2 separate regions of the Homo sapiens genome follow, and region 1 is linked to region 2. Evidence: fine-mapped expression QTL. A gene starts in region 2. The other region holds a variant in brackets. All regions are shown on one strand. Distances are between the middles of the regions.

Region 1 (8,335 bases), 130 kb after region 2:
TACTGAAGGACTTCTAAATAAGAAATGTAAATGTTAATTGCAACATTGTTACAGGGTAACAAATTATCAAGTAAGACAGTGACCCAGAATTATAGGTTTCTCTTTGAAGATTATATAGAAAATGGCAATATGTTTTAGTCTGTAGTCTTAACAATGAGACCCTTTTGTTCAAACATTACTTTCATGGACAGATTCTTTTTAACAAATTGCAGACAAAGTGAATATTTACAGGTCTACATTGTGCACAGGACATAAGATTCAAGTGGATGTTCTTTTTAAAAAAAATATTTAAATTTTTTTTTTTTTTTATAGAGACAGGGTCTCACTGTGTTGCCCAGGCTGGTCTTAAACTCCTGGGCTCAAGTAGTCCTCCCATGTCAGCCTCCCAAAATGCTGGGATTACAGGCATGAGCCACTGCTCCTGGCCAGTGTTCCCAATTTAACACTTCATCAAATCAATCCTTTGAACTATTTTTATGAAACCGATAATGTTTTTCTCTGCTGCAAGAGCAAAGAGGTTAATTTCCTTTGTGTTTCTAAAAAGATTCCTGTTTATTAATTATTGAAGATTTACAGTTATATGGGAAAGTTCAGGAATTTTAGTAGTTATATTAAAAGCAAAAGGTGAGCATCTGAAAAGCTATTTTATTAGCAGAAATCAAGAAAGTGGTCAGTAAAAGCTTACTCAATATCAAATAAGCAGCATATAGTCTTTCAAATTGTTTCCAAATTTCACCTATTTATTATTTCTGTTAACTAGTACCTTACCTGTAGTATGAAGATAATTGAAGCAGTAGGCTCCAAATAATAGAAAAAAAAATCCTTTTTTTTTTTTTTTGAGCCAGTCTTGCTCTGTTGCCCAGAGCTATAGTGCAGTGGCACCATCTCAGCTCACTGTAACCTCCGCCTCTTGGGTTCAATTGATTCTGGTGCCTCAGCCTCCCACATAGCTGGGTGGGACTACAGGGTGGGACTACAGGTGTGTGCCACCATGTCCAGCTAATTTTTGTATTTTCACCAAGTTGGCCAGGCTGGTCTTGAACTCCTGGGCTCAAGTGATCTACCCGCCTCAGTCTCCCAAAGTTCTGGGATTACAGGCGTAAGCCACTGTGCCTGAACACACACACACACCGCCCCCCCCCGCCCCACACCCCCCGTTGAGTTACATGAAACTATGAGTTGTCTTCAGATGTATGTTTTTTTGGTGTGGTTTTTTTTTTTTTTTTGAGATGGAGTTTCATTCTTATTGCCCAGGTTGGAGTGCAGTGGCACGATCACGGCTCACTGCAACCTCTGCCTCCTGGGTTCAAGTGATTCTCCCGGCTCACCCTCCTGAGTAGCTGGGATTATAGGCGTCTGCTACCACGCCTGTCTAATTTTTTATATTTTTAGTAGAGACAGGCTTTCAGCATGTTGGCCAGGCTGGTCTTGAACTCCTGACCTCAGGTGATCCGCCCACCTTGGCCTCCCAAAGTGCTGGGATTATAGGTGTGAGCCACTGCGCCCGGCCTGGATATGGTGTTTTCAGAGAAGTTCTTTAAAAACTCATTTAATTGTGGTAAAATAGATTGTCCCCGTAACTGCTGTTTCCGGTTAGCTAAGTTGTTTTTAATAGAGTATTACTTTATAAAATGAGTATTAAATTTATTGAGCTTTTATATCTGAAACATGATAGAACTTTATGCTATGAATAGGTTCAATAATTATTTAAATGAGTAAACCATTTTAATAAAAATGTATTCAGCATTTTGTACTATACTGCACTGGATACTATCATGTATAAGATATGGTTCCTGATTTCTGTGGGCTTGTTGTCTAGAGGAAATAAGAGGGGGTGGGGGGGGTATGTGCAAGATGAAGCTTTGCCTTAGGAATGGAAAGGTGTTTGGGGTTGGTTGGTTTTTAAGTGAAGGAAGTGGTAGTAGGAAGTTACAGGTATGGGGATATTTTGAGCAGAGGTGCAGTGGTGGAAACTTTCTCAGGAACAGAAGTTTCTTATAGACAAAGCCAAAGACAAAGTTTGGGGAAGGAAAATAGAATCTATTGAGGAGGACTTTTAGAACCAGGTTAAGAATATTGAATTTTTATCTATGCTGTATGTGTAGGAACCACTAAAAATATTTGAACAACAGGGCTTGCAAAATTGGTTTAGAAAAACTAATCAAGTCACATTTTGCACTATATGATAGATTCTTGACTTTAAAGGATTTAAAGTTTTCAATTTCTACTATTTATTTCAGAGAGATCTTCAGGACCCATGGTTTCTAAAATTTTGGTAGAGTTACAAATTTGAGTTTCCTATACTGTGTCTGAAAGACTTAGGTAGTGAGTGATTCTGGAAGAACCTTATAGTATGAATGAGGGATGTGGAGGAGTGGGAGGAAGATCTTGTATCAGCTGTGGACTCATTCATTCAGCAAAATGTCTAGACTATCTGCCATATTCTTGGCACAGTTCTTGAAGCTTGGTGAACAGAATAAAATGTCCTGTCCTCTTGGAGCTACAGACTAGTGGTATATTGTCTATTCTGTGTGAGACATTGTTCTAACTCATTTGCTTTTCTAATAACTCTGTAAGGTAGATATAGTACTATTATTATCCCCATTTTACACATGAGGTTGAAGGGCTTAAAGAAGTTAAGTGACTTGTGCAGTATTTAAACTCACACAGTTTGTTTCCGTAGTTTACATTTGACATCTTTATTTTCTCTCCATTTAATAGAGGCCCACAGTGTTAGCCAGTAAAAGGGCTTAAGGTGCCAGGGAGGGGAGAATGGGCATGTGCAGTGGCATCTGTCCAGCCTTTATTTCCTTAGTCATAAGAGGAAAAAATTAGGATTAGTTTTGGTAGAGTATTAGCAGAAGCACGAGGCCAAAATGAAATTGGTTAGATGTGAGAAGCTGCAGGTATATGTTAGTGAAGGAGAGGTCCTCGTTACTGGAAGGGGTCAGAAGCTTTGTGATTTATGTGGTCACCAGTGAAAGCCCAACATACAACTTGGTCCAGCATTGTGTTCTCTATTCATGGTCCATCTGAAGGGATTACTCACATTTTGAAGTGATTTTTGTGACTCTGTGGAGAAGAAGGGTTAACTCTCAATTGACTTAAGATAATCAGGGTGAGGGTTAGTTTAGTGCACAGGCTGGAGAGCTGGAGTTAAACTTGGAAAATTATAGCATCCTTAAAGAAATGTGTAGCTCTTGTATTGGAAAAAAGTCTTTTGGTTTAGAGATGTTAAACTTAGGAGATAGAGGATCATTCTCAAGAGAGAAGTTTGAACTAGATCTGTGAATTGAAACTTACCATCAAGGCTAGGTGTGATGGGTCATGCCTGTAAACCCAGCACTTTGAGAGACTGAGGCAGGAGAATCGCTTGACACCAGGAGTTTGAGACCAGCCTAGGCAACAATACGGGATTCTGTCTCTACAAAAAATTTAAAAATTAGCCAGGCATGGTGTCGTGTGCCTCTAGTACCAGTTAAGTGAGAGGGTTGCTTGAGCCCAGGAATAAGGTTGCAGTGAGCCATGATGGTGCCACTGTACTCTGGCCTGAGTGACAGAGCAAGGCCCTGTCTCAAAAATACAAATAAAATAAATTTTAAAAATAAAACTTACCATCACAGATTTAACATAAGGAAAGCTAATGATACCTGGTATTTAACCCCTAATATTTTGAAAGTATTGTCATGGAGGCCAACCATTTTATACACTGTGGTCTTTTATAGGAATTTTGAGAGGAGTGGATTCTAGAACTGGAAGATAAATTATGTTGAACTAAACAATTGAAGATAGTTTGTTGAAGACTTTTCTGTTCTTTGGGCTAGCAGAGTAGAATTTCTAAGACTATTTTGTTTATTACTCTTAGTATTAATGAGAGTTGTGGTTTGAAATGAGAGACTTTAATTTTGTCTTAAATTTTTGACTTTAATTTTTTTAAATTTTGTCTTCAACTGATAAGTGTTTAATAGTGCTGGAAAGTGATAGGACTTTTCTTCTTTTTTGAGACGGAGTCTCACTCTGTCACCCAGGCTGAAGTGCAGTGGCACGATCTCAGCTCACTGCAGCCTCCACCTCCCGGGTTCAAGCGATTCTCCTGTCTCAGCCTCCCTAGTAGCTGGGATTACAGGTGCTAACCACCACACCCAGCTAATTTTTGTATTTTTAGTAGAGGCAAGGTTTCCCCATGTTGGCCAGGCTGGTCTTGAACTCCTGCCCTCAGGTGATCTGCCCGCTTCAGCCTCCCAAAGTGCTGGGATTACAGGCATGATCCCCCACAGCTGGCCTACTATATTACTTTTTATAGGTTTTTTGGAGTGTATTTTTACACATTTTATTATGTTGTGGTTTTGTATTCAGGTCAACAGCTATAGCCCCATCACAAATAACAAAACTAGACCTCTTTCATATCCTAGTGTAGAGTATCATCATGGGACCAGAGGCATGGCTAATGATTATAACTAGAATTTTGGAAAAAGCCTCTATCTTTCATTAGGGACATCCCAGGCATTTGAGTAATAAAGACTCATTGCTGAGTGAAAGGAGAGTAACTTATAAAAGTATCAGTATTTATATTTTATTGCCTGCCTAGTGAATCAGTTTATAATGCTTTCTATCCATCCAAAGCATATATTACCATTGCAGGATGCCCTTGCCCCAAAGTATTTGTGCAATACAACTTTGTGTTCACAACTTGTCTTTTAAATTCTACTTGCTGTTGAATTCCATTTGCTTGCCAAATCTTCACTGAAGATACTCATTAAGTCACATTTTCCAGAGCAGTGTTTTTGTTAATATCTGGGGAAATCTAGAGTAATTTGTTTACTCCTTTCTTTTTTAGAGTATGTAAAATGATTATATTTCAAAGGATAAGTGAACTGAACTTGATAATGGAATGTTTAGGTAGAAAC[A/G]TATTTTCTGGTGATTTATTTATTGTTAGCCCAGTATATAAAATAGTCTTAAGGTCTTTCACTGACACTTTTCCTTCCTTCTTCCCTCCCCTCCCCTCCCCTCCCCTTCCCTTTCTTTTCTTTCTTCTCTTTTCTCTTTCCTTCCCATTTTCCTTGCCTTTCCTTTCTTGACAGCATTTCACTATGTTGCCCAGGCTAGCTAGAGTACAGTGGCCACTCACAGGCACAGTCATAGTGCACTGCAGCCTTGAACTCCTGGGTTCAAGTGATTCCACAACCTCAGCCTCCTGAGTAGCTTGGAACTACAGGCACACCTCACCACACTTGGCTTATTTAATTCCAGTTTACACGATCTTGAGCCTTTGATGCAATCCTATTGTCATTGCTTTACAGTGTCTATCAGATATTGTCAGATACATGTTACACAGATGTCTTTTTTAGGAGTAATTATTAGAGAAAGTTATGCATTTGAATTAAAATTCTCTTGAAAACATTACCGTAGTGGTGGATGTACCCTTAAAACATTATATTAAGTGAAAGAAGCCAGACACAAAAAGCCACGTATTGTATGAGTTCACTTATACGAAGTATCCAGAATAGGCCAGTCTATAGAAAGAGTCGATTAGTGGTCAGGGGTTGGAGGGGCAAATAGGAGTGACTGCTTAATTGGGTATGGGGTTTCCTTTTCCAGTGATGAAAATGTTCGGAACTCTAGAGAATGGTGATGGTTGTGTAACATTGTGAATGTTCTAAAAGACACAGGATTGTGTACTCAGATGTTTACAGTGGTAAATTTTATGTTGTGTATATTTTACCACAATAAAAAAGTTGCTATAATGATTGTTTTATGTTGATGCTATATTGTAGTTTCTGTTGTCTCGAGTTAGTATTTGTGAAAACTTAATCAGTTCTCTGTTATGTTTTGTTTAGGTAAAATGATCCATTCTATGGTAGCTCACTTGGATGCTGTTACAAGTCTAGCAGTAGATCCTAATGGAATCTATTTGATGTCTGGAAGTAAGTCTTAAAGTCCTGTACTGCCCACAAACTTTATAAAAGATTGTTACTCAGTAACAAATTTTATTTGTTCTTTTACAGGCCATGACTGTTCCATCAGATTATGGAATTTAGACAGCAAGACATGTGTGCAAGAAATAACAGCTCACAGAAAGAAATTGGATGAATCAATTTATGATGTTGCTTTCCACTCGTCAAAAGCATATATAGCTAGTGCAGGAGCTGATGCTCTTGCCAAAGTATTTGTATGAATCAACAAAAACTTGCATCGTAACAAGATTTGCTTGGACAGAAAGAGGGTCTGCATCACTGCCATCAGAAAGGTTACTGATATGACACTACATGTGATCTGCCTGGTGAAGGCTATCTGGGGCAGGCACAAATTGGTGGAAATCACATCTTAATGTCAAGCTCATTAAGTTAACTGTAATTACTGTATTTTGTGGGACAAAGAAAAAAGGACTCCAGTATTTGTGGCCTGTACTGGATGTGAACTGAGCGTATATCTGTTTTTAGGTGTCTTTAAGCCAATGTGGAGTCTGATCTTTCAAAAAAGTTTTTTTTTTTCTCTTCTTCTTCTTCTTTTTTTTTTTTTTTTTTTTTTTTTTGGACTCTGTGTGCTGCCTTAGGGGTTAGGAATGTGGTGCTCTTGTTGGGGGAAGTGAGCTCCAAGAGTAGCTTTTTTTCATCTCTTAGTGATCTTCTGTTTATCGGTTGAATGCCACAGATTCCCTTTTAAACTTATTTTGCTTTAAAAAAAAAAAAAAAGAAAAAGAAAATTTAACTTAAAATATTTTAGCATTAGTTGCACAAAATGTTTGGATAAAATTCTAGTTTTTATAAGTCTTTTTATATATTTAGCCTGTCACAACAGTGCTCAAGATTGTATTGAAGTTTTTCTGCATTATACAACCCTAAAACACAGAGATCTCACTGACCCGTTGCCCTGTAACCACTTTCTTTCCTTCTTTTGCCTAATACAGCTCAGCTAAGTCCTTCCATAAAGATGCTAAATAACTTTCATCATCACATAAATGTCTTCATAAACCAAGGACTATTAAGTGTATTAAAATGAAACAGTGGGGTTTAGTACTCCAAATGAACTCTTAAAGAAAAAAACTAATCTTGGCATCCTATCACTATGTGATATTTTGTACATCTTACTGTATTTACAAGTTTATTTATCAAGGATTATCCATCTTGCTAATGGCCTATTATTTATTTCACTTTTTGTTGGTCTTTATATCCTTTTATTAATGTGCTAAAGGAACCTGTATATCTATTTTGGAACTCTTTGAATAGTCTAAAATAGACTAAAAATGGAGTATTTTATAGTTTAAATTACAAACCAAGGTGGTTCCCCCTAAGATATATATCTTGGTTTACCATGATTCCAAACAAAACTAACTTGTTTAAAAATATTTGGAGTAAAGTTTTATTTGCATTACAAATAGGATACAAAAATAGTTGAATCAGGATACAGAAATCTGCTGTGTTTTGACTAGTTATCCCTGTTTTATTTTTTTAGATGTGCTTAATTTTATGGTGTAACTAAAGATTTTGTTTGTGTAATGCATGATTAAGACAATAAAGTATTTTTTCTAGTCTTCCGAGAAACTTTTCTGATCAGTTTGCGAGTTTTGATGAGTTTTGTAAGGTTTTTGTTTTACAAACTATGAATCAGCAAATTTTTAAGATTGTACCACATAGCAAACATACAGCTGTTGAAAAATAATGTATATAAAATGCATATAATAAATATTAAATTGTGTACCTGTATGTTACTGTTGGCTACATCATTTTGTGTTGAATAATAAAGTGCAATACTTTATTCTCCATAATTAAACTAGGAAATGGAGATTTCTTAGTGAGTCCTTCATTTTTATGCTGTTCTTTCAAACTTTGTCCTACTTATTGATATTCTAATAAGAGTAGATCACTAACACTATTAATAATGTCTAAGTATTTCACCCCACTTGAAGATTAAGAAAAAGTCTTGCATTAAATTATGCAATTCAAAATAACCCCCAGAAATGCACAGGTGCAGTTTTAAGTAATTTGCTTAGACATCCTGTTACATTATTAAATCTGAATTTCAATTAATGGCAGTGTTGTTCTATTTGCCATACCTGTTCCCACAAAAAAATTCAGCAAGGAATAAACTACATTGAATATTTAGGTTAGTTGGTGCAAAAGTAATTGCGGTTTTTGGCCGGGCGCGGTGGCTCAGGCCTATAATCCCAGCACTTTGGGAGGCCGAGGTGGGTGGATCATGAGGTCAGGAGATCAAGACCATCCTGGCTAACACGATGAAACCCCGTCTCTACTAAAAACACACACACACAAAATTAGCCGGGCGTGGTGGCGGGTGCCTATGGTCCCAGCTACTCGGGAGGCTGAGGCTGAGGTGT
Region 2 (8,335 bases):
ACTAACAAAAATGATTGACGTGACGAAAAAATATTCATATTAGTCTAGTCTAAATTTGAGTTATTCATCAAACATTTGAAGATCCACCCTTTCCCAGACTCTTGGGGTACAGTTTTGAACAAGAGGGGTAGAGGTCCTTCCCTTCTACAAGGCTGCAATCCTTCAGATAAATGACTTTATGGTCTAAGAAGGATGAAGTCAAAGACTGCTGTATTAGTCCGTTTTCATACTGCTACAAAGAACTTTCCTGAGACTGGGTAATTTATAAAGGAAAGAGGTTTAATGGACTCACAGTTCTGCATGGCTGGGGAGGCCTCAGGAAAATTACAATCATGGCAGAAGGGGAAGCAAGTACATCTTACATGAAGGGCAGGAGAGACAGGAGAAATTGAAGGGAGAAGAGCCCTTTATAAAACCATCAGATCTCCTGAGAACTCACTATCACGAGAACAGCATGGGGGAAACCGTCCCCATGATCCAATAACCTCCCTCCCTTGACACGTGGGGATTACAATTGGAGATGAGATTTGGGTCGGAACACAGAGCCAAACCATATCAATTGCATTACTGATATTTATAAAACCATGATTAAAATGAACGTAGTCACATTCCGTTGGAATTCTTTAAATAGGCAGCACACTTGAAGTTTCAAGAAAGGTAGTTTCAAGACGGATCAGGACAAAATATTGAGGAAGCCAGAGTGGTTGGTGCTAAGTATTTGCCTAAAATTAGACTAGAAACTCTGTGAAGGCAGAGATTACGTGTCTGGGTCACAGTGGATCAGCAGGGAGCAGTAGAGCACCTGAAAAATCGTAGCCAATCAGTACTTCTTAAAAAATAAAAAAAACGGGCTGGGCTCAGTGGCTTATGCCTGTAATCTTACCACTTTGGGACGCCAAGGAAGGAGGACTGCTTGAGGCCAGGAGTTAGAGATCAACCCTGGCAATACAGTGAGACTCCCATCTCTACAAAAAATTAAAAACAAAAAATAGCCTGGAGTGATGTTGTGTACAGGTAGTCTTAGCTACTCAGGAGGTTGAGCTGGGAGGATAGATTGAGCCCAGGAGTTTAAGATCAGCCTGGGCAACATAGTGAGATTCCCTCTGTACAAAAAATAGAAAGGAATAAAGCAAAAATTGAGTACTCACTATGTGTAAGTATTGCTTTTGGAGTGTTTAGTATCAGTGTTACTGATCAGTACACAGATGGTGTAAATATAGTGTAAAAACTATTAGATAAGGCCCTGTGCAGTGGCTCACACCTGTAACCCCAGCACTTTGCTAGGAGTTCAAGACCAGCCTGTGCAACATGGCGAAAACCCATCTCTACAAAAAATACAAAAATATTTGCTGGGCATGGTGGCACATGCCTGTGGTCCCATCCCAGCTACTTAGGAGGCTGAGGTGGGAGGATCGCTTGAGCTGGGGAGGCTGAAGCTGGAGTGAGCCAAGATTGTGCCACTGCACTCCAGCCTGGGTGACAGAGTGAGATCCAGTCTCAAAAAAGAAAAAAAAAAAGATTAAAGAAAAAAAGAGATAAGCATGGGAGGGAGGCTACTACAATAGAATAGTGAGTCAAAAGAATTCAGGGATATGGAGGCTTCTTGGACAAAATAATGCTTGAGCTGAGTATTTTCTTTTTTTTTTTTGTGGGGGAAGGGTTTTGTTTGTCTTAAGACAGGGTTTTGCTCTGTTGCCCAGACTGGAGTGCAGTGGCATAATGATGCAATTATGGCTCACTGCAGCCTGGACCTCCTGGGCTCAGGTGATCCTCCCATCTCAGCCTCCAGAGTAGCTGGGACTACAGACTCACGTGGCCACTCTGGCTAATTTTTGTATTTTTGGTAGGGACAGGGTTTTGCCATGTTGCCCAGGTTGGTCTCGAATTCCTAGGCTTAAGCCATCCTCTCACCTCTGTCTCCGAAAGTGTTGGGATTACAGGCATGAGCCACTGTGCCTGATCTGAGCTGAGTTTTGAAGATAGGCAATGGGGCACAGCATGTGTTAAATTACTGTGGAATGAAATAGCATTATACATTTGAGGAACCAAAAACAGTGGCAGTTTGGCTGAAGAGAAGAATGAGGTGGCATGATAGTGTTATGGTAGATTAGACTGTAGGATGGATCTAGATCAATTTATATGCTTATGTTAAAATTTGGGCTTTATACTAAATTTAGAAATCACTAAACTATGTTAAACAGAGGAATGACAGAATCATACCTTTGTTTTAGGAAGATCAATCAGGCAGCAGTGATAGTGCAAAGTGGGGGTAGAATGGAGGTGGGAAGGTTTAAACTAAAGTATAAAGAGAGACAATAGAATCCACAGGAAAGATATTACTGAGAATGAAATTGGTTTGTGGGGGCTGACTGAAAGGTAGTAGAATGACTGCTAGGCTTCAAGTTTGGATGTAGTGTCACTTAATAAGGTAGATAATAGAAGTAGAGATTTTGTTTTTGTTTTGAGGGTAGGTGAGGAGACAAAAAGGATAAGAAATCCAGTCTTTCCTTAAGCTCAAGTTACCAGTTATAAGTGTGCATGTTAGTCTTCTTTTGATGCTATCATCAGGTCAACCATTCTCACAAATGGTTTTTGTTGTTGTTGTTGTTTTTGGGATGGAATCTCACTCTCTCTTTCACCCAGGCTACAGTGTAGTGGCATGATGTCGGCTCACTGCCCCCTCTGCCTCCAGAGAAGCTGGGATTACAGGCAAGCGCCACCACGCCCAGCTAATTTTTGTACTTTTTGGTAGAGACGGGGTTTTGCCATGTTGGCCAGGCTGGTCTCCAACTCCTGAGCTCAAGTGATCTGCCCGCTTCGGCCTCCCAAAGTGCTGGGATTATAGGTGTGAGCCACCGCACCTGGCCACAAATGTCTCTGTGTGTGTGTGTGTGTGTGTGTATGTGTGTGTATGTCTTTGAGGCAGCATAATTTTTCTGAGCTTTTTATGTGCTATGACGCCCCCTAAAAAGGAATTGGATGAATAAACAGGTTGTATGTTGGTAACTCTAAGATAAATAGTACTTTAATAATTTGAAGAAATATGTAATCTTAACACTTTGTGAAGCCAAGGTGGGTGGACCACTTGAGCCAGGAGTTGGAGACTAGCCTGGGCATCATGACAAAACCCCGTCTCTACAAAAAATACAAAAATTAGCTGGGCTTGGTGGATGCACACCTGGAGTCCCAGCTATCAGGAGGCTAAAGTGGGAGGACCACCTCAGCCAGGGAGCTCCAGGTTGCAACAAGCAGAGCTCACACCACTGCATTCCAGCCCAGGCAACAGAGTGAGACCCTGTCTCAAAAAAAAAAAATAAATAAAATAATAATTTGAAGAAATGGTCCTTAACATTATAGTACTGCAATCTAAGATCTCATTTCATATAGAAATAAAACATGGCAGCATGAGTAACAGGTCCAATCTGCTTTCCATTAAACTGTAATAACAGTAAAGCAGATGTGATAAAATAAGATGCATTACTTAATCTCTTTTGAAATTACTTCCTGATTGGTTGGTAGTGCATACTCCATAGTACAAGTTTTATTGGCTTTTGCAGTAAAGAAAAAAAATTTTAAAAAGTAACAAATTTTCAATGCAATTTTCCTGCATCGCTATTAATATAATTACTGAACCTAATTTCCTTATGTTGTTAATTATTTTTGTCTTATTTTTCAAACAAATGCTTCTTAGCTATATTAATTTTTAGAAACACACTAGTGCATTAGGATATTTTCTAGGAAACTAAGCACATAAAAGTACCCACTATTGTACTTAAAATATTAGCCTTGTCTCTTATGTATATGTTACATTCCTCAAACTTTTTAAATTTTTTGCCGACACGGAGTCTCGCTTTGTCGCCCAGGCTGGAGTGCAGTGGTGCGATCTCGGCTCTCTGCAACCTCAGCCTCCTGGGCTCAAGCAATTCTCGTGCCTCAGCCTCCCCAGGAGCTGGGACTACAGGTGTGCGCCACCATGCCCGGCTAATTTTTGTATTTTTAGTAGAAATGGGGTTTCACAATGTTGGCCAAGCTGGTCTCGAACTCCTGGCCTCAAGTGATCGCCCACCTCGGCTTCCCAAAGTGCTGGGATTACAGGCTTGAGCAGCCGCGCCCGGCCATATTCACTTAAACATTTAATGACCCAGGAGAACATTCATCTAGGATTTTAAGTTGTACTCACAGTGCTTTTATTTTCTGTTTCGATCAAAATAGTCTATTGATGACAATATTTGTGAGCCCATTCATTTCTACCGTATCAAATTGTTAGTCTAGCCAGTCTCCTTCAAACTTCTCTCCCTCTACCCATCATCGTCAAGATCTAAAGGAATTCACTACCTCTTCTTCTCCCAAGAAAAAAAAAATCGCTCCTCCCCCTCTCCCAACCCCCCCACAACCCATTCCAGAAAAGGAAAGAAGAGGGGACGCAAAGTGGAATAAGTTACGACGGGCGACCGAGCGCATAGAAATGGGACCAAAGCCCAGGCTCAAGACAGAGACGAGGAATCAGTAACCACAGCCGGAGGATCTTGGCTATTTGCCAGCAGAGAACTGACTGGTTCTAAGAAACCAGAGGCAGAGCGAGTGACAGGAAGGGAAAGAGGGCCCACCCTTGGGACTGCCTGAAACACTCAAAGAATGAAAAAGAAACGTCAGGAATCCGAGACGGGATGCGGTCGGCCAGAGCGACCAGCCAGGTTAACAACCAGCTCAGAAAGCCGGGACACGGGTGAGAGACCCCTGGGAAGGAAACAGCGCCCGGGGACGGCCTGCTAAAAGGAAACTGATAACCAGGAAGCCTAAGGCCGCCTCGCTTCCAAAAGTCAGAGTCGGAGCCCAGGTGTCCGGTAGCTGCGGCCAGACACCGGATCGGGTCTGAGGGCGGGCCTAGGGGCGGAGCCCGAGCTCTTTCCCCGCCCTCTAACGGCGACCCGGGCTGCGTTCTCAGTGCGCCGGCGTAGGGTGAGGCCGGACTCTATTTGGCGATTAAGCGTGAGGCTGCGTTCGCTACCCAGCATGCTGTGCGCTAGTGACGGCCCTCCGCCTATCCCCTTCCCAACTCTCCCCCCACCCCTCCCGCCGAGGCCCCCCCTTCCCCTAAAGTGAGTGAGTGAGACGGGCAGATGGAGGAGGGATTGTAATGGCGGCAGCCGGCAGCTCCCTGCTCTGACCCACGGCAGGCACACAGCAACGACCCCTTCCCCGCCCCTCTCCCGGCCGGCCTCCGCCCCGCAGCCAGCGCGGGGCCACCCTCTCCGGCCCTTCCCCCAGCTGTCGGCGTCTCGCCCTGCGCCCCGGCCGGGGCCCCACACACAATGGACGAGCTTGCCGGAGGCGGTGGTGGCGGCCCGGGGATGGCGGCCCCTCCCCGGCAGCAGCAGGGACCTGGGGGGAACCTGGGCCTTTCGCCCGGGGGGAACGGAGCGGCGGGCGGCGGGGGTCCTCCGGCCTCCGAGGGAGCGGGTCCCGCGGCAGGCCCCGAGCTGTCCCGGCCGCAGCAGTACACTATCCCGGGGATACTGCACTACATCCAGCACGAGTGGGCTCGGTTCGAGATGGAGCGGGCGCACTGGGAGGTGGAACGGGCCGAACTGCAGGTACCTCGTTGGGGTCGGTGTGCGGGAGCTGCGGCGGCTGGGTTCCCGGCCGGGGGGTGGGGCTGGGGACTCCACTCAGCCGGAGCCGGCGCCTTGGGAGGCCGAGCGGAACCTACCTGTGCTGCTCAGGTTGTGATGGTCCTCTCAACGGCTTTTCCTGGAGTCCCCCTCCCTCTTTCCCGCATAAGCTTGCTCCCCAACCTTCACTGGCTACGCGGTGCGGGCCTCCTCGGGGCAGCCATTTTGGCTTTTAGTATGGCGTCTGCGGGGGCTCCTCCGGAGGCGGCCTTCCCGGGCCTCCGGGGCTTGGGACCGAGCACCTCTCTGTGGGAGAGTCCGGTTTGGGGCCTCTCAACACTGAGTTTGCTCTTGTTTGTTCCTCTTGAGATGAAGAGCCCGAAGAGAGGGACTAGGATAGGCATCTTACCCCCCTTTTCCGGACCACCCCCCTTTCCGATTTGGCGTATCTGGCCCCCTCCCTCAGACTTGGTACGCGCTTGCCCCTTGACAGCCACGCTTCTTTCCTGGGCTGCTAGGGTGCACAGTGACTTGGGACTGACCTGTGAAGTTTTATTTCCCATCGTCAACTTTAAGTACTTTCTCACCTGAGATGCTGCCTTACTCACTTGGATTCTCTGTAGTTATTCCTTACTTAGTGACTCATCAACGCTTTCAGCACTGAATTTTTCTTTTTACAGTACTCTCCACTAGATCTCCTTTCCCCCATCCGTTTCTTTATCTATAAAAAAACCAAACCAGACGATCGATGCTGTATTTATGAAACGACTGAAGAGATTTAATATTCCCTTGAAGTGAAACGTAGTTATATCATGTTACTTACTCTTGCAGGAGAAGCAAAGTGAGATGTTCTCGGAACCCTTCATAGTTGAGCTTGACTCGATCCTCATAATGTGAACCTTTGATAGGCTGCACATTTGGAAGCTGTTGGTAGTTAACAGCTCATGTCCTGGATCTCAAAATTGCTGCATCTTTTTGAAAGGGTTATTTAACTTTCTTGGGTATTTGTGTTTATTTTTAAATACCTTTCCAGGGCAAATTTAGGCTTAGAAGGAAAAAGCGTGTGTCTAAATAGTATTGCACCTGTTCTTCAGACTGTTGTGTATTTAGGGGGTAAGCAGTATTTGCTGTCATATATGTCATATGCCTATGGTGAATCGTTAGGCAAATGTAGTGCTGAAAGGAGGAGGATTGGATTAACTAGAAAGGGTGTCCTCAAATATGCATCTCTTTAGTTTGGTTCTGAACTAGTAAACTTTTATATGACTCCACAAAGTGGGTGAAGTTAAACTTTTCAAAAGTAAAAAATACTTGGGTATTTTGACACTGTATGAAGTCTTAAAAAAAAGTAACACTTGTTAGTCATTTCAGTGCTTTACAATTGTGTTTTGATATAATATTGGGCTTTAAAATTACATAACTTTAAAAAAGCTGAAGTCAAAACTGGTTTAAGTTGTGTACAGTCTGCTTTAACATACTTAAAATTTATAGAATTCTGTTGGTATACAGCTTTCTACTACATACTGCAAACTTAATTTTCTGTGTGAGTAAAGTAAGTAAGGCATTTGTTTTTAAAATTTGGATTGACAAATGCAGTAAGGCCTAAGCTCACTAAATAATACTTCACCAGTCCCTGCTATGGTTTCTTAGACCTTTGTACTGTTGTATGCAAGTTTGGATTTCAACACTCTTCAAGTTAGCAATTGCATTTTTCACCCATAAACTTCACTAATGTAAGCAGCTGAGAAGAAAGATATCTTGTGCCCAAATTAGTAAAACCTATACTATATATTAAAGAAGCCTTTATTGCCTGCTCTAGCATTTGCTTTCCCTTCTAGGTCTCCTTAACAGCAGCAGCAGTGTTTTAAGGTAGATTCCTTTTGCTTGCTTGCTTGCTTTCAATTCTATTGGTACAGTACTGTTATTAGCCATCCTAAGTTTTTGTTTGTTTCCTTGTTTTGAAGAAGTCCTACAGTGTTTCTAGACTCTTTTTTATTTCATACTGATTCTTTTGGAATAAAATGTTCATGATGGCGTTGGTTTTTTTTTTTTTGAGTTATATATTTAAAATGTTTTATTGGGTTAACTTAATAAGGTTTCTAGTTTGCTTTAGGTGCCTTCAGTCTACTGAGATTGCTTGTGAGATGCGTATTTTAAAATGTATGTGTTGAATACATATTTGTGGGAGGGTGTAGTGAAGCATCAGTGGATTTTTACTGTAAACTTAAACCTATTTTTAAGAAAGACAATCTAGAAATAAGACAACTTACATATTATTATGTACAGTCTCCAGTGCACTGTCATGTACACAGATTTTTAAAGTGTTAATTATTGAATAGTTTCAATAGAGAACGTGAAGAGCTTAAGGAATACCCCATATTGATGTAAAATTTTAATGGGGAATAATATTTTCCCTGGCTTTGGGAAAGATATTAAAAGGAACTTTACAGTATGATTCTGTTCTCTGTAAAAAGAATTTAGAGTAAAGGTCTGTCTTAGAAACTTGGAACCAAACTAAAGGATCACATCTTAAAGCTCTTCTGTCTCTGATTCTTCCTTACCTTAGACTCAGGTAAAGCATTGTTAGTAAGGTCATAGGACAGTGGTTTCTTAACTTTTATATAACATGAATTACCAAAATTCCACAGACAGTCCATTTTCTTCAAGCCCTAGATCAATCCAGATCTCCAGAGGATAAGAGGCCTGCATATTTTTTAGAGTTC

What was found. PIP is the estimated chance that this variant, and not a neighbour inherited with it, causes the effect. A credible set is the group of variants that fine-mapping cannot tell apart.
Region 1: its variant is the best candidate, but not a certain one, in a credible set for the expression of STRN3 in lung (TOPMed, PIP 0.85).

Annotation. Positions count from the first base shown.
Region 1 is chr14:30,893,251-30,901,585 of GRCh38, reverse strand. STRN3 (striatin 3) reads left to right here. Exons shown (of 18, transcript NM_001083893.2): 17 at 5,838-5,924; 18 at 6,006-7,782. The coding sequence ends at 6,175. It also overlaps a transcript of COCH not described here. Among named protein-coding and RNA genes, the nearest start is that of COCH-AS1, 7.6 kb to the right of the region's middle. The variant A/G (reference allele first, on the strand shown) is at 4,908.
Region 2 is chr14:31,023,163-31,031,497 of GRCh38, reverse strand. It overlaps STRN3 (striatin 3), which reads left to right and starts at 5,119. Exons shown (of 18, transcript NM_001083893.2): 1 at 5,119-5,594. The coding sequence starts at 5,313. It overlaps AP4S1 (adaptor related protein complex 4 subunit sigma 1), which reads right to left and starts at 5,849. Exons shown (of 6, transcript NM_001128126.3): 1 at 5,711-5,849. RefSeq lists enhancers at 4,621-4,780, 5,891-6,000, 6,071-6,170 and silencers at 4,911-5,230, 5,321-5,580, 5,720-5,901.